Homo sapiens: one gene and its partners. The protein of the gene in region 3 binds, or shares a complex with, the protein of the main gene of each other region. Each region holds a gene or a part of one and is shown on either strand. Other genes may lie near its edges.

Region 1 (8,331 bases), on a different chromosome or scaffold from region 3:
AGAAGGTATTTGACAATAGCTTGTGGGTTTCATTGTAGACCTCGGTTTGTCAAACTGACACATCAGGCCATGTGGCTTGGAAGGGGGCTGTGATGGGATGTGGAATGCTGAGCGAGTGTTATGGGGGCCCCAGCTGTGGGGTACATCTGCCTTGCAGGCCTTTAGCCACCTTACCAGATATGTGGCCTTGGGGCTTTGGCCCCAAGGTTTTATCCTCTCCCCTCCTGCTGTCAGTTGGGATGGATCCCTTGATCCCAGGGAAAGTGACCCACATTCTGGGGTGGACCAGTGGGACAAAGGGGAGATTATACTGGATACTGGGAGCTCTTAGAAAAGGTCCCTGCCACCGCCCCCCCTCCATCTCCCATCTCCCTGGTCTGCCTTGGCCCACCCACTGCTTGTCTGCAGTCAACCTAGCTGCCATTTTGTGACCAGGAGGCAATAAAACTGGTGCTTGAAGCTGGGAGGCAGAGGTTGTAGTGAGCCGAGATTGTGCCACTGCACTCCAGCGAGACTCCATCTCAAAAAAAAAAAAAAAAAAATAGCGACAGGCAAGGGGCAGAAAGCCAGCAAGAACCTGGGAGACTGCACCAGCCCTGGCCTGCCTCCCCCACGTCGGCCAGCCCTGGAGAGTCACAGCCTGGGTTTGTGGCTGCATTTCTTGGAAACATGAGAAGGCAATAAAGGAAGCAGGAGTGTGTAGCATCTTCGTCCCAGGGCCCTGCACAAAGCCAATTCTAGGAAGAAACAGAAAGCTCTCCAAGTTGTTCTGGGAGCTCCAGATGAAATCCTTCCATCACCAAGTTCCCTAACCCAAAGTGTTTCTCCACGTACGGCTTAGAAAACTTTCTCCCCCAAAGGAGCCATTTCAAATAATGCCTTCCATTGCTTTCCAATCTGAGGTCTGCTTTCTCCCATCCACTGGGTCTTCCCTCCACGACTGAAGGCCTGTGGGACGGGTGGGCAGGTGGACAGTGCTTGTCAGCTTCACTTTACAGATGTGGAAACTAAGGCACGGTTACACTACAGGTTAAGTGGCAGCACCAGAACTGGACCCACTTTCTTTCTTATTTTTCCTTTTTTGAGATGAAGTCTCGCTCCATCACCCAGGCTGGAATGTAGCCTGGTTACAGTGATCTCGACTCACTGCAACCTCTGCCTCCCGAGTTCAAGTGATTCTCCTGCCTCAGCCTCCAGAGGAGGTGGGATTACAGGTGTGCGCCACCATGCCCAGCTAATTTTTTTTGTATTTTTAGTAGAGACGGGGTTTCACCATGTTGGCCAGGCTGGTCTGGAACTCCTGACCTCAAGTGATCTGCCTGCCTCAGCCTCCTAAACTGCTGGGATTACAAGCGTGAGCCACTGCGCCCAACCTTTTTTTGGGGGGGATGGAGTCTTGCTCTGTTATCGGCTCACTGCAACCTCCACCACCCTCATTCAAGAGATTCTCCTGCCTCAGCCTCCTGAGTAGCAAGTAGCTGGGACTACAGGCATGTGCCACCACACCCAACTAATTTTTGTATTTTTGTTTTGTTTTGTTTTGTTTTGTTCTTCGAGACGGTCTCACTCTGTCACCCAGACTGGAGGGCAATGGCGTGGTCTCGGCTCACTGCAACCTCCACCTCCCAGGTTCAAGCGATTTTCCTGCCTCAGCCTCCCAAGTAGCTAGGATTACAGGCATGTGCCACCACACCCAGCTAATTTTTGTATTTTTAGTAGAGAGAGGGTTTCACTATGTTGGCCTGACCTCGAACTCCTGACCTCGTGATCCGCCCGCCTCGGCCTCCCAAAGTGCTGGGATTACAGGCGTGAGCCACTGCACCCAGGCTTTTTTTTTTTTTATTAGAAATGGGTTTTCACCATGTTAGTCAGGCTGGTCTCACCCTCCTGACCTTTTGTGATCAGCCTGCCTCCGCTTCCCATAGTGCTGGGATTACAGGCGTGAGCCACCATACCCGGCCTGGACTCAGTTTTCTACCACTGGATCATTCATTAACACATCTGTTAAGATGTGTGTTGAGTGACTCAGGCACCGGGCTCTGTCATGGGCCCAGGGGAGAGAAGAGGGAACAGTACAGCCATGGCTGCGGCTCGCATAGGCTTTTAGAGCCTTTACATCAACTCAGGTGACCTTAGTTTACATTTTCGCAGATAGGAAAAAGGAGTCTTGAGGTATGCATATTTGTTAGGATGCTTTGATGATTCGCAGCAGAAAAACTCAAAGCAGCCTAAAAATAAAGTGGAGGCTGCACACCGTGGCTCACGTCTGTAACCCCAGCACTTTGGGAGGCTGAGGCAGGAGGATTTCTTGAGGCAAGGAGTTCGAGACCAGCCTGGGTCACACAGGGAGAGCCCTGTCCATACAAAAATTTTAAAAATTAGCTGGGTGTAGTGGCGCATGCCTGTGGTCCCTCCCAGCTACGAGAGAGGCTGAGGTGGGAGAATCACTTGAGGCCAGGAGTTTGATACCAACCTGCACAACATAGCAAAAACACTATCCTTATAAAAATTTTTTTTTTTTTTTGAGAAGGAGTCTCGCTCTTTCATCCAGGCTGGAGTGCAGTGGCGTGATCTTGACTCACTGCAATCTCCGCCTCCTGGGTTCAAGTGATTTTCCTGCCTTAGCCTCTGGAGTAGCTGAGATTACAGGCGCGCGCCACCACGCCCGGCTAAGTTTTGTATTTTTAGTAGAGACAGGGTTTCACCATGTTGGTCAGGCTGGTCTCGAACTCCTGACCTCAAACGATCCGCCTGCCTTGGCTTCCCAAAGTGTTAGGATTACAGGCATGAGCCACCGCACCCAGCCTATAAAAATTTTAAAAATTAGCCAGGTGTGATGGTGCACACCTGTAGTCCCAAGTGCTCGAGAAGCTAAGGCGGGAGGATCACTTGAGCCCAGGAGCTGGAGGCTTCAGTGAGCTGTGATTGCGTCACTACATTCCAGCCTGGGTAAAAGAGGGAGACCCTGTCTCTAAAACATATTAATTAATTAAGCGGATAACTTGGCTCACATATCTGAATCTTTGGAGGCAGGTTGGGCTCAGACCTTCCAGTCAGAGGTGACCAGAGCTCCGGTTACTTCTCTGACCTTCTCTCGGCTCTGCACTCTCCCTGCAGCTTCCCTTGTTGCTGTTCCACTTCCGCGTTCCACTTACGAGTCCAGATTCCTGCAGCTCGCTCAGAAGGGGCTTTGTGCGCTGGATCATCAGCTGAAGTCCTGGGCTTTGCTTTGATTGGGTCATCTTAGGTCACAAGTGCAGCAGGACAGGGAACACCGTGAGCTGATTTAGACCACTCAGGGCCACTTGGGGTCATTCCCTGGGCATCTACAAAGCGGCAGAAGAGTAGGATGGAAGCCAGGGAAGCAGCAACAGGGTCACCTCAGTTACCCTACACTTGTCCCTGTGGGAAGAGGGCTGCCGGTACAGACCCCTTGAAGCTTTGTATCTGCTTGAACTAAAACCACCGCCTGTGTTTGCTGAGGTTGCCGACATCTGTCTGAGAAAATACGCAGGAGCAGCAAGGTTGGGGGGGCTCAGAAAAGTTCGAGCACTTCCTGTGTGCACACTGTATGACCCGATTCACACACCTGGACACATTTAATCCTCCCAACTACCCTAGGGGGTCGAATTCAGTGGAAAAGAGAGCGGCGGCTAAGGGCACCTCCAATGGGGAGGGTGTCGGGGCAAAGCGACCTGAGACCCCCAGCCACATACTGCAGGACAAACCAATGTCGGCAGGTGAGGACAGGGTGGGAATAGTGTTCCAGGCAGAAGGAACAGCGAGTGTCAAAGCCTCTAAGCCTGACAGGGTGGGAGTCTGGCCTCGGATCTCCAGAGATCCAGGAAGACCCTGCACAAATACTAGAGAGAGGGGTCTGAAGGAGAGAAGAGGAGGGAAGGTTTTTGTTGTTGTTTGAGAGGAAGTCTCGCTCTGTTGCCAGGCTGGCGTGCAGGGGCCCCATCTTGGCTCACTGCAGCCTCTGCCCCCGGGGTTCAAGCAATTCTCGTGCCTCAGCCTCCCGAGTAGCTGGGATTACAGCAGCGCTCCATCACGCCATGGGGCTCCTTGCAGCTAATTTTTTTTTTTTTTGAAACAGAGTCTCACTCTGTCGCCCAGGCTGGAGTGTAATGGCGCGATCTCGGCTCACTGCAACCTCTGCCTCCTAGATTCAAGCGATTCTTCTACCTCAGCCTCCCGAGTAGCTGGGATTACAGGCATGCGCCACCACGCCTGGCTAATTTTTGTATTGTTTAGTAGAGACGAGGTTTCACCGTGATAGCCAGGATGGTCTCGATCTGAGCTCGTGATCCTCCCGCCTCGGCCTCCCAAAGTGCTGAGATTACAGGCGTGAGCCACCGCGACCGGCCGAGGTAAGGTTTTCACTGGGGTCTCTTCCATCTGCCTGGCCGCCAGGCCACGTATCCACTGAAGAGGCAGAGGGTCAGGATGGGAAGACTCCGGGGACCACCTAGCCCAAGACCCGCAATCAGGCGGCTCTGCAAGGCTAACCGGGTAACTTAAAGAAGTGAAGCCGATTGACGTAAAACAGAAAGGAAAGAAGTTAACTGGCCGGCCAGCGTCAGCAGGGGCGGCCAGTGTCACCCTGCCCGGGGACAGCACCCCTGTTTCGTGGCGAGGACACGGAGGGCCAAGGGGGCGGGGCCGGGCTGCCCTGGCCACGCCCGGACCGCCTGCTCCCCGCCCAGGGCCTGCACAGTTGGCGCCCACCGGCATCAGCGTGAAGGGAGCTCCTCGCTGGCTGCCGACGGGGCTGCAGGGCTCGCTAGCCGCTCACCTGCGTGTGAGCGCGGAGCCCGCAGTACCCGCCGTCCGGGCTCAGAGGACGTGACTCCCCGACCCTGCGCCCGGCAGTCCCCGGGGGCCGTGCGCCCGGCCCAGGCTCGGAGGTCCAGCCCAGCGGCGGCTCAGGCTGCGCGCCTGGCTCCCAGCCTCAGTTTCCCCATTGGTAAAGCATTGACGGTGGTTGCGGACGGCTTCTGCGGACAGAGCCTTGGGCTCCGACGTCTGCGCGGGTACCGGCAGCACCCCCACCCCGAAGGGAGGGCGGGACCTGGATCTCGCGACCGCTGCCCCAGGTCCCCGCCCCCGGGCCCTACCGGGCTGAGGTCGGCAGGCCCCGCCCCCCGCCCACGAGGAAGTGGCTGCTGCTCCGGCGCGGAGCCCAGAGCCGGTTCGGCGCGTCGACTGCCCAGAGTCCGCGGCCGGGGCGCGGGAGGTGAGGGCCGTGGGGGCGCCCGGAGGTGGGGGTCAGGGGAGCCACCTGGAGGTGGGGGGGCGCGTAGATGTGGGGCGCCGCCTGGGAGTGAGCGGGACTGGAGGGATGAGAGGGGGTGCAAGGAGGGGACCGGGGGGCGCCTGGAAGTGAGGACGCATAGATGTGGGGCGCCGCCCAATAGGGGCACGGGGATGAGTGGGGGCACATGGAGAGGAGGGGGCGCGGGGACGAGGGGCTCACGGAAAGGAGAGGGAGCCCTGGGATTGGAGGGGGCGCGGGGGTGGCCGCAGGGCCAGACTGTGGAAACGCGGGCTCCCAGCGCACCGGGCGCCCTCGGGGCGTCCCCAGCCCCCGGCCCCAAGCTTCCGCCTCGTGCCTTCCGCCCCTGCTCCCCGGCCCCCATCCCCAGCCTTGCCCCGCGGTCGGTCGGTGTAGCCCCGTTACTTCGGGCCGGCGGGGCCCCACACCCAGTCACTTCCCCTCCATCCCCGGAGCCTTCCGGGTTGCAGCCGCCGGGAAATGAGCTGGCGTCTCCTGCCGCCCCGCCCCTGCCCTCCTGGCCGCTCCCGCTGCTCCCACCCGCCTCCCCCGGGCCAGGTCCGAGGGGTCCCGTACGGGGCGGGCCTGGCTGGCGGGGTCCCGGAACGCACCCCCTCAGCTGCAGGGCTCCGCGGCCAGGGCAGATCCGAGCAGCCCCTCCCTTTCCGGAGGCGCTGGGAGAGCAGCCAGGCCGCCTAGGGCGGGGCGGGGCCGGGCTGCACCCGCGGGCAGTGAAGGGATCAGGAGTGCAAGCCTGGGGAGTCAGACCTCCCCCTGCCTCCTCTGCCAATGCAGCCCGGAGGCTACCACCACCCATCCCGGCCGGGCGCGGTGGCTCACACATAGAATCCTAGCATTTTGAGAGGCCCAGGCGGGAGGATCGCTTGAGGCCAGGAGTTGGAGGCCAGCATGGACAGCATTGCGAGACCCTTTCTCTATTAAAATAAATAAATAAAATGTAGCCAGGCGCTGTGGCTCATGCCTGTAATCCCAACACTTTGGGAGTCGAGGTGGACGGATCACTTGAGGTCAGGAGTTCGAGACTAGCCTGACCGACATGGTGAAACCCTGTCTCTACTAAAAATACAAAAATTACCCAGGCATGGTGGCACGCACCTGTAATCCCAGCTACTCAGGAGGCTGAGGCAGGAGAATTGCTTGAACCCGGGAGGCAGAGGTTGCAGTGAGCCGAGATCACGCCATTGCACTCCAGCCTGGGCAACAGAGCAAGACTCCGTCTCAAAAAAAAAAAAAAAAGCCACGTAACATGCCTGTAATCCCAGCTACTTAGGAGGATGAGGCAAGAGAATTGCTTGAACCTGCCTTGGCAGTGAGCCAAGACTGTACCACTGCACTGCAGCCTTGGCAACAGAGCCAGACTCCGTCTCTAAATAAATAAATAAAATCTTAGGGACCTAGGTAGGAGTGCCAGCTTCTCCCTTCACTGGCCAGTGACTGGTAAGCCACCCAACTCCTGCCAGCCTCAACTTTCCTTATCTGGAAAATGGGAACCTTAAAGACTGGGAGGCTGAAATGCAATACTGCAAGACACCTGGCAGCGTGTCAGGCGCTGACAGTATAAACGTGCGTTTGTTGCTCACCTTGATCATAGTGTTCCCCCAGGTGAACCTAACTTCCTGGCCTCCAAGATTTGGGGTCAGAGTCCCAAGCTGCGTCATTTAGTAGAAGCCGAGTGACTTTGAACAAATCGTTGCTTTTGTCTGAGCCTGGGTTTCCTCCTGTACAAACTGAAGGTAAAAAGCAAACAGGCTGGGCGCGGTGGCTCACGCCTGTAATTCCAGCACTTTGGGAGGCCGAGGCAGGCAGATTACCTGAGGTCGGGAGTTCGAGACCAGCCTGACCAACGTGGTGAAACCCCGTCACTACTAAAAATACAAAATTAGCCAGGTGTGGTGGTGGGCACCTGTAATCCCAGCTACTCAGGAGGCTGAGGCAGGAGAATCGCTAGAACCTGGGAGGCGGAGGTTGCGGTGAGCCAAGATCATGCCGTTGCACTCCAGCCTGGGGTTACAAAGCGAGACTCTGTCTCCAAAAAAAAAAAAAAAAGCAAACAAAAAATGTCTCAGGCTTGCTTCAGGGGGAGAATGGTGAAAGGTCTGGGTAAAATCGCCCTGATAGATGCCGGTAAAGTTTGTTTCTTACATATGTCTGTACATAATCCATTGATAGGTCTTTTTCTTTTTTTCTGGAGTCCGGGTCTCATTGTGTTGCCCAGGCTATAGTGCCATGGCTTGATCATAACTCACTTTAGCCCCAAACTCCTGGGCTCAAGGGATCCTCCTGAGTAGCTGGGATTACAGGTATGTTCCTCCATGCCCAGCTAATTTTTAAATGTTTAGTAGAGGTAGGGTTTTGCTGTGTTGTCCAGGCTGGCCTCAAACTCCTGGCCTTAAGCGATCCTCCTGCCTTGGCCTCCCAAAGTGCTGGGGTTACAGGCATGAGCCTCCACGCCTGCCTTATACGTGCTTTCTTTTTTTTTTTTTTTTTTTGAGACAGTGTCTTGTTCTGTTGCCCAGGCTGGAGTGTGGTGACACTACCTTGACTCACTGCAGCATCTGCCTCCCGGGTTCCAGTGATTCTCCTGCCTCAGCCTCTCAGGTAGCTGGGATTACAGGTACATGCCAATATGCCCGGCTAATTTTTATATTTTTAGTAGAGACGGGGTTTCACCATGTTGGCCAGGCTGGTCTCGAACTGCTGACCTCAGGTGATCCGCCCACCTCGGCTTCCCAAAGTGCTAGGATTACAGGCGTGAGCCACCGCGCCCAGCTTCTTCTTCTTCTTCTTCTTCTTTTTTTTTTTTATTTGGAGGTGGCGGAGTTTCACTCTGTCGCCCAGGCTGCAGTGCAGTGGCACAATCTCAGCTAACTGCAACCTCTTCCTCTCGAGTTCAAGTGATTCTCTTGCCTCGACCCCCCGAGCAGCTGGGATTACAAGTGCCCACCACCAAGCCCAGATAAATTTTGTATTTTTAGTAGAGAGGGTTTTACCATGTTGGGCAGGCTGGTCTCAAACTCCTGACCTCAGGTGAT
Region 2 (7,867 bases), on a different chromosome or scaffold from region 3:
TATTTTAACAGCACTGTTTCTTCATTTGAAACCAATCATGTCCATAGAAAATCTGCATAAAATTTTAAAATAACTAGAAGCATAAGAACAGATAAATTTTATTTGAATTAATTACACTCACTTTTTTCATTTATGACAGGAATTGATCACTTGTCTTAAGGAAAAGAATCTTAAAAACATGGATTAGACACAAGACTAATCAATAACATACTACAATCAGCTTTTTTTTTTTTTTGTGACAGTCTCACTCTGTCGCCCAGGCTGGAGTGCAGTGGCGTGATCTTGGCTCACTGCAACCTCTGCCTCCCAGGTACAAGTAATTCTCCTGCCTCAGCCTCCCAAGTAGCTGGGATTTCAGGCATCAGAAACCACACCCGGCTAATTTTTGTATTTTTAGTAGACACGGGGTTTCACCATGATGGCCATGCTGGTCTCAAACTCCTGACCTCAAGTGAACCTCCTACCTCGGCCTCCCAAAGTGCTGGGATTACAGGCATGAGCCACAACGCCCAGCCTAAAATCAGCCTTCTAATGTTAGCTAACTAATGGAATAGTAACATAACATTAGCTTCTGACAGCAGGGTGCAGTGGCTCAAGCCTGTAATCCTAGCACTTTAGGAGGCCGCAGTGGGCAGATCTTTTAACCCCAGGAGTTCAAGACCAGCCTGGGTAACATAGGGAGACCCAGTCTCTACAAAAATAAAAAAATTAACTGGGTGTGGTGGCACAAGCCTGTAGTCCCAGCTACTCGGGAGGCTGAAGCAGGAGAACCGCTTGAGCCCAGGAGGCAGAGGTTGCAGAGAGCCGAGATCACGCCATCGCTCTCCAGCCTGGGCAACAGAGCTAGATCCTGTGTCCAAAAAAAAAAAAAAAAAAAAAAAAATCAGCTTCGGTTAACATTCCCATTCTAATTTAATATTTAAAAACTCATATATACTACAAATACAGGGCTCATTACCTTGAACCCCTAAAAGAATTCATTAAAATATAACTGGCTTGACTTTCTAAAAAGAGTATCTGACACAATCACAAAACAAAAAATTTTAAATTCAATTTTTAAAGTTTTTTATTTATTTAGAGGCCAATTTGAAACTATAGTGGAAATCAGGCTAATACTTTTTTAAAAAGCACATTTAACTGAATTTTAGCCGCACATGTAACATGCGTTTATGGTTAATTTAGTTTAAATATAGTTTAATAATACTTGCTTTGTTCAAATAAAGAACATTTTTCCAATAATTCAGAAAGGTCATGAAGTCCTCTCCATCTTCCCTCACTCCCTTATCCTCTGTCTCATAGGTAACCATTATGAACATTTCTTATGTATCCCTCCAAAACTTTCATATGCGGATACAAGTTTGTGGACATACATCTTTAATAAGGAACACACACTTAAACTGAATCATTCTAAAACCTTTTTCAACTTAAAATCTTAGACGTTTCCATAGCAGTGGATCTGCCTTTTTAAAAATATTACATTCTTAAAAACCGTCACATTAATATGTTTTGTTTTTCTTTTTTTTTTTTTTTTTTTTTGAGACGGAGTCTTGCTCTGTCGCCCAGGCTGGAGTGGTGCGATCTCGGCTCACTGCAACCTCCGCCTACCGGGTTCAAGCGATTCTCCTGCCTCAGCCTACCGAGTAGCTGGGATTACAGACGCCCACCACCATGCCCGGCTAATTTTTGTATTTTTAGTAGAGACGGGGTTTCACTATGTTGGCCAGCCTGGTCTCAAACTCCTGACTTCAGGTGATCCGCCCGCCTAGACCTCCCAAAGTGCTGGGATTACAGGCATGAGCCACCGCGCCTGGCCTCAATGTACGTTAACACTCTTTTTACTCTAGTCCATTTTTAACACAGTTCAGATGAAGCTACCATAATTATTGCTTGTAAAATTGTGTAACAAATCTAATCAAGGGCAGTATTATGGCAGTAAATACCAGCTCTTTTCCCCCTCAACAATTCAGATTCCAAAGTGTTTTGTTCAAGTAAAATGAACTTTAATTCATACATCATATTTATGGGAGGGAGGGGAGAAAACTCACAAAATGTTGCAACATCAAAATGGTTAGAAATCACTATAGAAGTCATCCAGAATAAATAATATTTCCATCTTCTAATTTGCTGACTTTGCTACCCAAAATACATTTTTTTTTAATCTGGCAAGAGGGAGGTCTGAATGAAACAATTTTTTTTTTTTATAATTGAGACGGAGTTTCACTCTTGTCGCCCAGGCTGGAGTGCAGTGGCGCAATCTCGGCTCACTGCAACCTCCGCTTCCTGGCTTCAAGGGATTCTCCTGCCTCAGCCTCCCAAGTAGCTGGGATTACAGGCAAGCACCACCACGGCCGGCTAATTTTTGTATTTTTAGTAGAGACCGGGGTTTCACCACGTTGGCTGGGCTGGTCTCGAACTCCTAACCTCTGGTGATCTGCCCGCCTGGGCCTCCCAAAGTGCTGGGATTACAGAAACAATTTTCAAATAGTTTCTAAATCAGTGCTTTAGTCAGATTTTACAATTTTTGAATCTTAAAGGCTAACATTACCTGTATACTGAAACGAAGGGAAAAAAGGGGGCTGGGGGTGGGATAATCAACACTAATTAACTTCCCCTAAGGCTAGTGGAATTAACACTTGAGTCTTGCGGGATCCTAGGTCACCCAAAACCACTCAATGGAACATGCTGGTCTCCGTGGGCCTACTCCTGGGCCAAATACTAGTATGTAAAACAAAAAGTGAACGATGCGCTGCCGATCTGGACCCCTTCCCTCGAAAAAACTAATAAAAAGCCCAACAAACACAGCGAAAGGGCTGAGGTCCACACTCCATGACAGCACTTCCCTTTTTTTTTTTTTTTTTTTAAGTAAACCCGCTTCCTGCTTCTCGTTTGGTGTATCTTCAACTATACAGGAAGAGGAAGGCCTCTAGGTCTTTCTCCTTTTTACAAACCGGTGGCCCTGGGGAAAAGAGCCCTTCTCGGAACACACAAACCGAGCCTTTTACGCTTCCGTCCGCTTTAGCCCAATTGCCCCCGCATTAGCGCGGAGCAGGTCCCTGCCGGGCGGTCAGTAGGCTCCATGTCCAGTGCCGGTCTCGCCCGCCGCCCCCACCCGGAAGGGTGAGGGGGTGGCAGGCTAAATGGGTGGCAGGCTCAAGGGAGACCAGGGAACGGCCGGCTCGCTCCCACGCCCGCGGAGGTGGGAGGCACCGCCCCGCGCCCCTTCGCCCCGAGGGCCCGGAGGTGCAGCCCTGGGGGCCGAGGGCCCGTGCGCCAGCTGCTCGTCCCCGCCGGCGTCTGTGGCCGCCAAGGCCTCCTCGCGCGGCCCTTACCCCGGTGCCGTTGTCGCACACCACCACCTTCCTGCCCTGGCTGTCCATCGTCCGCCCAGGGAAGAGCCGCTGCAGCCGCACAACCTACAGCCACCGCCGCCCGGCCGTTTTCTCTTCTTCCTCTTGCGTCTTCCCGGCCCCTCCTTCGGCCCAACTTTTTTCCCCCGACCGGAAGCCGCCGCCGGGCTCCGCCCGTCATTTAGCTGAATGCCTGCACGAAAAGGGTGGGACGGGCAGGCAGCGCGACTGGCAGCGGTGAGCTCCAATAAAAGATGGAGGAGCGTCGAGGCCCCTCCCGCAGCTCCGCTTCCGGCTCGGCTGTCACGGTCGCTGCCCACCCGGGTTCTTCGCTGCTTCTAGTTCCGGGCGCTTTGCCGGGCGTTAATGGCGGCCAACATCGCCGGTGCTGCGGCTTTCTCCCTAAAGTGTCACAGGAGCTAAGGGCGCTGCTTAACGAACTGCAGAAGACGCAGGCAGGTGAAGGACACCGGTTCTGCTGCGGCAGTGGAATGTGGCGGAGAAGCTGGCGGGTAGGGCGGGGAGCAAGCCTGGAGGTCCTGGCGGACCCCACCATTCGACAGGGCTTGGTGTGTTATTGCTTCTAGGCCTTTTCAGCGGACAGAACTGGGATGGATACACACATGCTTATTTGAAATCATGCGTTTGTTCCATACTCCAATGTCAGCCCACCCCTTCTTTGCCCAAGTTGCTCTATGGTCAAGTGAGCGAGAGCAGGTGCCTGCATTTCCAGCCTCGTGGCTCACCGCCTCCTTCCAGTAGTCCCATGTTGCTTCACACCTCTTAAGTACATGTACTTCTGTGAACCCAGAGCCTTGGCTTTGAAATCAGACAACCCCAGTTTCAAACGTGGCGCTGCCACTCACGAGTTTTGTGATTTTGGCATACCCCTGTCTGCATGGGGATAATAACTTCTATCTCCATAGGTGTGGTGAGGATAAAAGTCTATGCATGGAGGAAATGTTCATTCAGTGGTAGCTATTTCTAATTCTGTTCTTCTGGACCTATGATTCTATCTACGATGCCTCATTTTTTTTCCTTTTTAATCAATTGGCAAACTTGTGCTCTGAGACCCAGCTTGTTACATCTCTGATGACAGCTGATATCCTCAGGATATTCCGTACTTCCTTTCTCCCTATTACTTTACTATGAATATATGAATAACATTGTGCTTATTGCATGCAACAAATATTTATTAGATGAATGACATTAAAATTCACCTTTAAAATGCCATCCTTTATGAGAGGTGAGAAATAGAACTTTTCCTTCGACATGGCTGTACATGTTCAACAACTAGAATAAAACAGTCATCATGAACCCTCAATCCAGTATTCTTTTTATAATATAGCTGCCTGTCAGTTTTCACTGTTCTTTTATTAGACCAGTGATTTTCAAACCTTTTTAAAGGCATACAGTGCTTTATTCAAATCTAATCTTATATGGAACCCTCAACACATAAATATTAAGATAAAAATAAAGCTGCCATTGTTGCAATTAGAAGTTTGAGAGGTTAGAATAGGTAGGAAGTCTCGGAGGAACATTTCTTCGTTTTACCTGCTTTAACAGTCAGAGAAGTACCTCAGCCAGCAGAAAAATTTATTTGTTCATAAATTCCTTGAGTATAGAGTCCGTATCTTATTTTTGTGGCCTCCAATGCTAGTGCTGTGCAGTTTTCTTGAAAGTGCATTTTATTGGTCTCAGCAAATTGAACTCAAGCATTTCTGTGTTCTTTTACTTTTCCTCTTTGTGGAATTAAGGGGATTGCTAATTTGTATTTTTAAAGAAAGAACATTATTCCGGGCGCGGTGGCTCACGCCTGTAATCCCAGCACTTGGGGAGGCCAAGGAGGGCAAATCACCTGAGATCAGGAGTTCAAGACAAGGCTGACCAACATGGCAAAACCCCGTCTCTACTAAAAATACAAAAATTAGCTGGGCGTGTTGGCACGCGCCTGTAATCCCAGCCACTCAGGAAGCTGAGGCAGGAGAATCGCTTGAACCCGGGAAGCAGAGGTTGCAGTGACAGAGATCGTGCCACTGCACTCCAGCCTGGTGAGAGCAAGACTCTGTCTCAAAAAAAAAAAAAAAAAATTGGCAAGTTTGGCCCTAAAATTTATATGAAATGAAAAGGAACCAGAATAAAAGGATTTCGAAACAGAAAAAGATGGAGAACTTCCACTACCTGAATTCAAAACTTATTATAAAGCTACAGTAATGAAGACTGTAATACTGGCATAGAGGCAGATATATCGATCAATGGAATCAAATAGTCCACAAATAAACCTTTACATTATGGTCAGTTGATTTTCAACAATGGTGCTAAAACAATCCATGGGGAAAGGGTAATCTTTTCAATGAATGATGTGGGAGGGAAAAAAAAGAACTTTGATTCTTACCTCACATCACACATAAAAATTGATTTAAGTGGATCATAGACCTAAATATAAAAGCTAAAACTATAAATTTCAGAAGAAAAAGAGGAAAATCTTTTGATATTAAGTTAAGCAAAGTTTGCTTAGATATGACGCTAAAATCGTGATCTATAAAAGAAAAAATTGATAGTTGACATAATAGAAATTTAAAGCTTTTAGTTCATGTATTGAAACAAAAAATCTAGACTGGGACAATGGCTCACATCTGTAATCCCAGCACTTTGGGAGACCAAGGTGGGTGGATCGCTTGAGCTCAGGAGTTCAAGACCAGCCTAGGCCAGATGGTGAAACCCCATCTCTACAAAAAATACAAAAATTAGCTGTGCATATAGTCCCAGCTACTTGGGAGGCAGAGGTGGGAAGATGGTTTGAGCCCAGGAGGCAGAATTTGCAGTGAGCTGAGATTGCGCTACTACGCTACAGCCTGGGTGACAGCCAGACCCTATCTAAAAAAAAAAAAAAAAAAAAAAGAAGAAGAAAACAAAAACAAAAAATCTTGGTCTGTCTTAGGCAACAAGCAATTAAAAAAAAAGTAGAAAATAAAGCAAAAGGGCCGGGCGCAGTGGCTCACGCCTGTAATTCCAGCACTTTGGGAGACTGAGGCGAGTGGATCACCTGAGGTCAGGAGTTTGAGACCAGCCTCGCCAACATGGTGAAACCCCATCTCTACTAAATACAAAAATTAGCTGGGCGTGGTGGCGGGCACCTGCAATCCCAGCTACTTGGGAGGCTGAGGCAGGAGAATTGCTTAAATCCAGGAGGCAAAGGTTGCAGTGAGCCAAAATCATGCCACTGCACTCCAGCCTGGGCAACAGAGCATAACTCCATCTCAAAAAAAAAAAAAAAAAAGAAAAAGAAAAAGAAAAGCCATGAACTAGAAGAAAATATTTGAATAGATATTTTACCAAAGAAGATTTATGAATGGCAAATAAGTACATAAAAAGATATTCATCATCATTAATCATTAGAGAAATGCACATTGAAAGCATAATAAGATAACACTTAATACCCACTAGAATGGCTATAATCAGAAAAATAGAAAACAAGTTTTGGCGGGGCTAGGTGGCTCACACCTGTAATCCCAACACTTTGGGAAGCCAAGGCGAGTGGCTCACTTCAGGTCAGGAGTTTGAGACCAGCCTGACCCAACATGGTGAAACCCCGTCTCTACTAAAAAATACAAAAATTAGCCGGGCGTGGTGGCAGGTGCCTGTAATCCCTGCTACTTGGGAGGCTCAGGCAGGAGAATCGCTTAAACCTGGGAGGCAGAGATTGCAGTGAGCGGAGATCGTGCCACTGCACTCCAGCCTGGGTGACAGCGAGACTCCGTCTCAAAAACAAACAAAACAAAATAAAACAAAAAAAAATGGAAAACAAGTTTGGCAAGAATGTGGAGAAACAAACACTCCTACATTCCTGGTGAGAATGTAAAATGGTACAGGCACTTTGGAAAGCAGTTTGACAGTTTTTTAAAAAATTAAGCATAAATTGCCATATAACCCAGCAATTTCACGCCTAGGTATATACCTAAAAGAAATGAAAACATATGTCCATGGACTCATACCTACATGTCCATTGCAGAATTACTCATAATAGGCAAAAAGTGGAAACTATTCAAATGTCTTATCAGTTTGTGAATGAGTAAACAATATGTAGTACAGCCATACAATAGAATATTTGGTGATAAAAATAAACCAATACATGCTGTAACATGGATGAAAGTAAAAAAACACTATAGCAGATAAAAAGACTGTGATTTCATAGGAAAATCACAAATATAGAAAAAGCAAGATTATAGATACAGAAAGCAGGTTAGTGATTGCTGGGGCTGAAACTGGAAGCCAGGTTTGGCTGCAGATGGGCATGGGACAACTTTACGGATTGATGGAATACTAAAACTAGATTTTGGTAATGGTTACACAACCATAAAAATTTACTAAAAATAAACTGCACACTTGTAATAGGTAAATTTTGAGATGTGTAAATTTCATGTTGTAACTCCAATAAGGCTTTAAAAAATTTAAGTTACCTGCCCAAATGTACCTATCATGTAGCAGAAGCAGGATTAGACACAGGTGTGCCTGTCCTC
Region 3 (7,826 bases):
GACTTTCATTTAAGACTAAGCTATGCCGGCCAGGTACAGTGGTTCACACCTGTAATCCCAACACTTTGGGAGGCCGAGACAGGTGGATCACCTGAGGTCAGGAGTTTGAGACCAGCCTGGCCAACGTGGTGAAATGCCGTCTCTACTAAAAATATAAAAATTAGCCAGGCATCATGGCGGCACCTGTAATCCCAGCTACTTGGATTACAGTAGCTGTAGGCAGGCTGGGAGGCTGAGGCAGAAGAATCCTTTGGACCCAGAAGGCAGAGGTTGCAGTGAGCCGAGATTGTGCCATTGCACTCCAGCCTGGGCAACAAGAATGAAACTCAGTCTCAAAAAAAAAAAAAGGTCCAGGCGCACTGCGCCGTGGCTCATGCCTGTAATCGCAGCACTTTGGGAGGCTGAGGCAGGCGGATCTCTTGAGGTCAGGAGTTTGAGACCACCCTGGCGAAACCCCGTCCCTACAAAAAATACAAAGATGGGCCAGGCGCGGCAGCTCACACCTGTAATCCCAGCACTTTGGGAGGCCAAGGCAGGCGGATCACAAGGTTAAGAGTTCAATACCAGCCTGGCCAACATGGTGGCCAGGTGAAATATGGTGAAACCCCGTCTCTACTAAAAAAACAAAAATTAGCTTGGCTTGGTGGTGCATGCCTGTATTCCCAGTTCCTCGGGAGGCTGAGGCAGGAGAATCGCTTGAACCTGGGAGGCAGAGGTTGCAGTGAGAGCCGAGATTGTGCCCCTGCACTCCAGCTTGGGCAATAGAGCAAGACTCCATTTTGGAAAAAAACAAAAATACAAAGATTAGCCGGGCATGGTGGCACGCACCTATGTAATCCCAGCTATTCAGGAGGCTGAGGCACAAGGATCGCTTGAACCTGGGAGGTGGAGGTTACAGTGAGCTGAAATTGTGCCACTGCACTCCAGCCTGGGTGACACAGCAAGACTCCATTTCAAAAAAAAAAAAAAAAAGTCTAAGCCATGCCGGGATTGCCCTCTCTCTACTCTCTTTTTTCCCCATATCCCTCCACCTCCTGAAAGCCTTCCTCACCTTGGTGTGGGTCAAGGTTCATTAATTCATCCAACAAGCATCCATGTACTGGGCCTGGAGACTAGAACAATTAATTCAGTTGTCCGCCAAGGTTCTGTCCCCAGAGAACTTCTAGGTTGGCTGTGGAAATAGACACATAAATGCATCATTTTATTTCAGCCTGTTTGGGGCTAAGGAAAGGATTGCACAGAGGTTGCTACTCATAGGAGATGGGAGAAGTCTCCTTGTGGGTGGTTACAGCTGGTAGTAACAAGAGGACAATCTGGCTTCAACCATAACTCTAAGAGGTGGCATGTCTTTATTAAGGGCAAGGGAGTGGCACTGGAGTGCTGATTAATGCCTACTGGTTGGCAGACATTAATCAGAAAGCCTAAACATGCCCTGCCTTGTGAATTCCCGTTTCACTTTCCGGGCTCTACTGAAGTGTTCCTTCCTCTGGGAACATGAACACCAATGATATTTTGAGCCATTGTTATGCGTCAGATTTCGGGTTAACAGCTTTACAGATATCTCCTCTAATTCTCATAAATGCCTCATTTCACATGTGAGCAAACTGAGACTCAAGAAAGGGGAAGAGATTTCCCAAGAGTCTCAACTACTACCTTGGCAGCAGAGCAAGAATTTGAAACCTGGTCAGGTTCACTTTAAAAAAGGCTGTACTAGCCGGGCGCAGTGGCTCACACCTGTAATCCCAGTATTTTGGGAGGCTGAGGCGGGTGGATCACTTGAGGTCAGGGGTTTGAGACCAGCCTGGCTAAACCTTGTCTCTACTAAAAATACAAAAATTTAGCTGGGTGTAGTGGCACACACCTGTAGTCCCAGTTACTGGGGAGGCCAAGGCAGGAGAATCTCTTGAACCCGGGAGGTGGAGGTTGCAGTGAGCCGAGATCGCGCCACTGCACTCCAGCCTAGGCGACAGAGCCAGACTCCATCTCAAAAAATATATAAAAAATAAAATAAAAATAAAAAAGGCTGTATGGCCAGGCGAGGTGGCTAACCCCTGTAATCCTAGGCACTCTGGGAGGCCGAGGAGGGCGGATTGCTTGAGCCCAGGAGACCACCCTGGGCAACAGCTCTACAAAAAATAAACAAATTAGCCAGGCCTGGTGGCTTGTGCCTGTAGTTTCAGCTACTCGGGAGACTGAGGTGGGAGGGCTGCTTGAACCCGGGAAGCGGAGGTTTTGGTGGGCGGAGAGCGCGCCATGCCTTCCAGCCAGGGTGACAGAGCGAGACCCTGTCTGAAAAAAAAAATTAAAAAATAAAAAAAATAAATAAAGGCTGGGGCCAGGCGTGGTGGCTCACGCCTGTAATCCCAGCACTTTGGGAGGCCGAGGCGAGGGGATCACCTGAGCTGAGGAGTTCAAGATCAGCCTGGGCAACATGGCGAAACCCCGTCTCTACTAAAAATACAAAAAATTAGCCAGGCGTGGTGGTGCATGCCTGTAATCCCAGCTACTCAGCTACTCGGGAGGCTGGGGCAGGAGAATCGCTGAACCCGGGAGGCGGAGGTTGCAGTAAGCCGAGATCGCGACACTGCACTCCAGCCTGGCACCCTGGGCGACAGAATGAAGCTCTGTCTCAAAAAAAAAAAAAAAAAAAAAGGTGTAAATGCTCTTTGCAGTTCCATATACTGCCTCCCCAGAACCTTTATGGAGTTGGATTATAACTGCCTGAGCCCGCCCCTCCCGTCCATCTCGCGCTTTAAATTCCTCCGCGACGTGAGCCTCGGTTAATCGTCTTTGAAAACTCTGGCCCCTCCTCCCGTCAGCACCCCCAGACTACTGGCGCCCAGCTCAGAGTTGCCCAGATTGGGAGATCTGCAAGGTTTCCCGAAGGAATGAATGAACGAATGACTGAATGGACGAATTTGAGTCCTCCGTGTGCCATCTCTGGTAGCTGCCGCCCACGTTGGGCCTCGGTTTCCCCAACTGCGCGCCTACACCGTGACGCCGACCTCGCTATCAGGGGTGCCGTGAATGAGGCGAGCACTACAAGGCGGGGCTCCGGCCCTACCAGGCGGGGCGGGCAGTACCACGGCGTTCCTCGGGGGCGGGGGAGATGAGGCGGAGCCGGGGCTCCCCCGCTGCGGCGCCATTGGCCGCGCCCGCCGCCACCCGGCAGTAGTTGCGGAGGTCAGCCCCGCCTACTTCCTCTTTCCCTCGGAGCGGGCGGCGGCGTTGGCGGCTTGTGCAGCAATGGTGAGAGCTGCGGAATCGGGCGCCATCCGAGCGCTGTGAGGCGCGGGGGTTGGGGAAGGCGGTGCGGGCTGAGCCCGCGGATTCTATCTGCCACCTAGGCCTGTGGGGCGCCGCGCAGAATGGTCTGGCGCCACCACAACCCGCCTCTTCGCTTGGCGCCGGGAGAGGCGCGCGGCCCGGGCCTGGGTTACTCTGCCCAAGGCACGGCCGGCGAGGGAGACTGTCCTGAGCCCTGGTTGGGGCTCCGGCGCACTCGTAGTCGATGGCGAGTCGCGCGCCTTTGGGGGCTGGCCACGCAGGTGAAGGGGATATGGCCCCGCGGCCTGGCTGAGGCACACTCTCTCTTGCGCGCAGGCCAAGATCAAGGCTCGAGATCTTCGCGGGAAGAAGAAGGAGGAGCTGCTGAAACAGCTGGACGACCTGAAGGTGGAGCTGTCCCAGCTGCGCGTCGCCAAAGTGACAGGCGGTGCGGCCTCCAAGCTCTCTAAGATGTAAGTGAGGCGGCCGGATCACAGCCCTCGTGGGTGGGGAGCACGTGTGCATCGGGATCGTCGGAGGATTTCAAAGTTGGCTTAAGGAGCTGGCCGCTTAGATGCCCACTCCGTGCATCCTGGCGCGCATGGGAGACCCGTTGTGTGCTTAGCCTCTTACCTGCCTTGACCTTGCGGTCCTTGTGCCTGGAATGCATCCCCGGAGACCCATCTTAATGCTGCCTTCAAAGCCTACCCGGACCCCTTCCTTCCGCTTCCCACCAACACTTGAGTTTTTAACCCCCTTGGCAGGTGGGTGGCTTGCACCCTGGAGTGGCAGCGTAAGTTATTTTACATGGCTAAGAGTGCGGGAGACTTGTGAAAGGAACATGGGTTTGGAGTTCATCAACCTGGGTACAAAGTCCACTTCTCAAAAAAAAATTAGATGGGTGTGGTGGTACAGGCCTGTAGTCCCAGCTACTCTGGAGGCTGAGGCAGGAGGATCACTTGAGCCCAGGAGTTGGGAGGCTATGATGGGGCCACTGCTCTTCAGTCTGGTTGACAGGTGAGACCCTGTCTCCAAAAAAAAAAAATGGTGGTTGCCCTCTTTGCCCCCAAACAACCTTAGTAGAGGCAGGGGTGGGAGGATTGGACAAGCACAGTTGCACACTGAATCCTCAAAAACCATGTTGACCAGCTGTCTACTAGGTGACTCCCTCATCCTGACATGACTACAAATAACTTCTCCCTGGCTCGTTGTTTGCTTCAGTCTCCTGGCTTGTAGTGACTCCACTTTGCAAATGTCTTGTTTCTCTCTCCTGCAGTTCCCTAAGCTAGCCTGATTGCCTGGTTTGTGGCATGATTCCTTCCCATCAGCTCATTGAAATTGGCATTGGTTGGGTCTTAGCCCTCAGGATAAATTCGTGTTCTGGGATTGAAGGTCTTTTTCTGATCTGCCTCATTTATCCAGCCTGCACTTCCTCATAAAGCCTCTGCTGTCTCTCCCATGCCCCTCTCTTCCCTCCTCAGACCTCACTCCCAGAACGCCTTCCTCCTGAGTGAATATGGATGGGTTGATGGGGGAGGCTGCAGCTATTGCTGCCCTATGTGTGAGTCCTGAGTCTTGGGTAGTGCTATGTGTCTTCCCTATCTTCACTGACATCTCTGTTTTGTAGCCGAGTCGTCCGGAAATCCATTGCCCGTGTTCTCACAGTTATTAACCAGACTCAGAAAGAAAACCTCAGGAAATTCTACAAGGTGAGTCTGCCTGGACATAGGGAGGGTTGGCTGCAGGAAGCCAAGTGCTAGCCGTCCCTGGCCGGGGACATGGTAAAGAGGTTTTTCTTGGTGCGTGGGCTGAGAGTGGTTAGCCTTCCCAATTTGTTGCTGGGCTCACTCTTCTACCAGTGTCTTGCACTGGCACGTGGCTCTGCAGACCACTTCCTCAGGCTGCAGATGTCAAGAATTCATTGGGGCTTGGGGTGTCCTGGCTGGAGACTCAGTTTTTGAAACCAGCCTTCCCAGTTGAGTGGCTTGGGCAGTGATAGGACTGGCTGTTGAAGGTTTTCACTGCCTCTTACTGGCACTGGGTGTCAGTCCCTGCCAGGCACCTGCCATGCTCATTTTTCAGATGAGGGCCCTGAGGCCTAGACACCCACAGTCAATGGCATGATGGGCCCTGGTTCCAAACCTTACCTTGGGGAGGGTCGGCTTTAGTGTTCTGGGAGGTGTGCACAGGTGTCTGGCCCCCTCTTAGTCTTGAATTTTGATAACCATTTTCTGGTCTTGTCCTTAACATTCATCTTATTGGGGTTCAAGCAGAGAAAACTAGGGGGAGACGGTGTGTGCACATGCATCCAATGTATTCTGAAGAATGGGCATAGGTGATTGTGGGGGCTGGCTGGGACTCAGGGCTCAGGTTGAAGCTGCTGTTCCCAGTGGGTACTTGGAGGGAGCCTCAGCCCTGTGCTTAAGACTTACAGCTGATTGGATCGGGCCTTCTGGGATTACCCAGGATAATCTCCCCTAAAGTTACCTGATGAGGGTCTTTAATTTCATCTGCAAAATGGTTCCACATCACTACCCAAATTGTGTTTGAATAACTTGAAGATTTGACACAAGGGAAAAGCAGCCATGGCTGATGAAGTGCCACAGGCCTATAACCCCAGCTACTGGGAGGCCGAGGCAGGAGGATGGCTTGAGCCCAGGAGTTAAAGTGTAGCCTGGGCAACATAGTGAGGCCTCATCTCAAAAAAATGAGAAGGGCCATAGTGTGGCTATGTTAGCTGTTCAGGGGACACTAGCACGTGTGTGGCAAAAGTAAACCTTTAATGTCAGCAGCTACGTGTGTGGCTAGTGGCTGCTCTGTTGGACAGCAGAACTCTAGGGGGTTAGCCAATGTGAAAAGGACGAATGCCCAGCCGATGCCAGCAGGAGTGAGGGATGTGGGAGGACAAAGACTTTCCTGCTTCCAAGTACCCTCCAGGGCTGGCCCTCATTGTCCAGGATCTTTCTGCAGTCCTCTGCCCACCTGCAGGGGCCTGGGGCCCTGTGACCTCAGAATCCCCCATACCATGGGCCACTTGTTACCTGTTCAGTCTTCCCCCACTAGGCTGGGACCCCTGAGCAGGGACTGGGTCAGATCCTTTGCCAAGCCAGCTCCCAGCACAGGGCCCAGTCCTGAAGGGGGCCCAGGGGACCTTTGCAGAACACAGGAGAGACCAGTGAGAGCTGCCATGGTCTAGAACCCCCTGCTGGAGAACAAGTGGGGCAGGAGTGGGAGCCAAGGATGGAAAGACAGATGATGGCTCTGTGACAGCTGTGGGCAGGGGCCCCAAAGCCGGAAGCAGGTGGGGCAAGTGGCCTTGGCCAGCCAGGCCTCTGAGGCTGGACGTTCATACAGGCAGCAGCTGGTGGGCCCTGCATACAGATGGACAGAGTACTGCCTCAGCCCCCAGCATGCTCTTGCTAACCAGAGCCGAGGTAATGGTAACTACCCCCGGGGCTTGGTGGGTGCTGCGTGCCCTGTACTAGGTTGTCATGTGACTGTCCTCGTGACTGGGAATCGGGCAGTGGAAGGAGCACTGAGTTGGGAGTCACTTGACTGAGATGCAAGCCCCGGCTCTTCCACAGCTTTGCCAAGACTTGGACACTCAGCCCAGTAGGTCAGCAGACTTACATGAAATGAGGATGGTCCCACCAGCCTTAGATTTGGGGGGATTAATTGAGTTAGTGACATGTGTGGCCTGCTGGCAGTCCCATGGTGGCAGCCTCCTCCTGAGTGGCTCTGGATGGCCCTCCCCAGCCCCCTTAGCTGCTGCAGTAGCTCCTCAGCCCTGGGTCCTTGGATTCACCCTGCCGTCTGTCTCCCAGGGCAAGAAGTACAAGCCCCTGGACCTGCGGCCTAAGAAGACACGTGCCATGCGCCGCCGGCTCAACAAGCACGAGGAGAACCTGAAGACCAAGAAGCAGCAGCGGAAGGAGCGGCTGTACCCGCTGCGGAAGTACGCGGTCAAGGCCTGAGGGGCGCATTGTCAATAAAGCACAGCTGGCTGAGACTGCTTTGTTTCCTGGCACTTCCACTGATTGGGTGGAGGTGGGTGGGTCTGGTTTTGGGGACCAGGTGTCTGATGGGTTCCAGCAAGCGTCCTGCCCACCACAGTTGTCTGCTCTGGTGGGGCCTGGAGAGTCCTGGCCATGGGGATCTGCTGGATGCCAGCACAGTCACTTTGCGTCTGTGGGGAGAAGCGGCATGCCTGTGCGCCACTGAGGGGAGCGGGTGAGGTCGGCACCATCTAAGGTGGTTGGTGTTAGGTTTGAGGGTCCCTGGGTGATTTGGACGTGCGGGATATTTGACGTCTAGTCTGATCGGCAGCTCCAGACACTAAGATTTTCCCATCTGGGGTGAAGGCACAGGTGTGGGCCACATCCAGGACTCCCTGCTAAGAGTAGAAGGTGGGGCTCGAGGCAAGTCCTGCCTTGGGAGAAGCTGTCCACAGCTTCCTCAGTGCCACAGCGCCGTGCCTTACCTTCAGGGTCTCAAGGCACTTTCCTGTGTTGCAGTCCCAGACTTTGACCTGGAAAAGGAGGGGGGCATGTCAGGAAGCC

The links.
Region 1: the proteins of ARPC5L (region 3) and ARPC1B are in contact, whole or in part, in a cryo-EM structure (PDB 6YW6), measured with the Homo sapiens proteins. Residues at the interface, in NP_112240.1 of Homo sapiens: Asn21, Lys22, Arg102, Gly139, Leu140, Gly141, Ile144, Arg145, Thr148, Arg150, Lys151; in NP_005711.1 of Homo sapiens: Arg118, Lys138, Arg142, Phe164, Ser201, Gly203, Trp204, His222, Asp223, Ser224, Thr225, Leu240, Ala241, Ser242, Glu243, Thr244, Leu245, Pro246, Phe281.
Region 2: the proteins of ARPC5L (region 3) and ACTR2 are in contact, whole or in part, in a cryo-EM structure (PDB 6YW6), measured with the Homo sapiens proteins. Residues at the interface, in NP_112240.1 of Homo sapiens: Arg11, Arg12, Val13, Asp14, Ile15, Asp16, Glu20; in NP_005713.1 of Homo sapiens: Tyr225, Glu263, Phe266, Gln267, Arg319, Lys322, Gln323, Ser338.

What each region holds. Positions count from the first base shown.
Region 1 is NC_000007.14:99,369,543-99,377,873, forward strand, and holds the start of ARPC1B (actin-related protein 2/3 complex subunit 1B), read left to right. Parts: upstream 1-5,187; 5' UTR 5,188-5,239; intron 5,240-8,331. UniProt on the Homo sapiens protein: Component of the Arp2/3 complex, a multiprotein complex that mediates actin polymerization upon stimulation by nucleation-promoting factor (NPF).
Region 2 is NC_000002.12:65,223,420-65,231,286, reverse strand, and holds the start of ACTR2 (actin-related protein 2), read right to left. Parts: upstream 3,457-7,867; 5' UTR 3,378-3,456; coding exon 3,330-3,377; intron 1-3,329. UniProt on the Homo sapiens protein: ATP-binding component of the Arp2/3 complex, a multiprotein complex that mediates actin polymerization upon stimulation by nucleation-promoting factor (NPF).
Region 3 is NC_000009.12:124,857,333-124,865,158, reverse strand, and holds the start of ARPC5L (actin-related protein 2/3 complex subunit 5-like protein), read right to left. Parts: upstream 3,030-7,826; 5' UTR 2,761-3,029; intron 1,172-2,760; 5' UTR 1,052-1,171; intron 1-1,051. Other genes in the region: RPL35 (large ribosomal subunit protein uL29), read left to right, coding at 3,247-3,249, 3,604-3,740, 4,895-4,976, 7,092-7,241; WDR38 (WD repeat-containing protein 38), read right to left, coding at 7,529-7,660, 7,748-7,795. UniProt on the Homo sapiens protein: May function as component of the Arp2/3 complex which is involved in regulation of actin polymerization and together with an activating nucleation-promoting factor (NPF) mediates the formation of branched actin networks.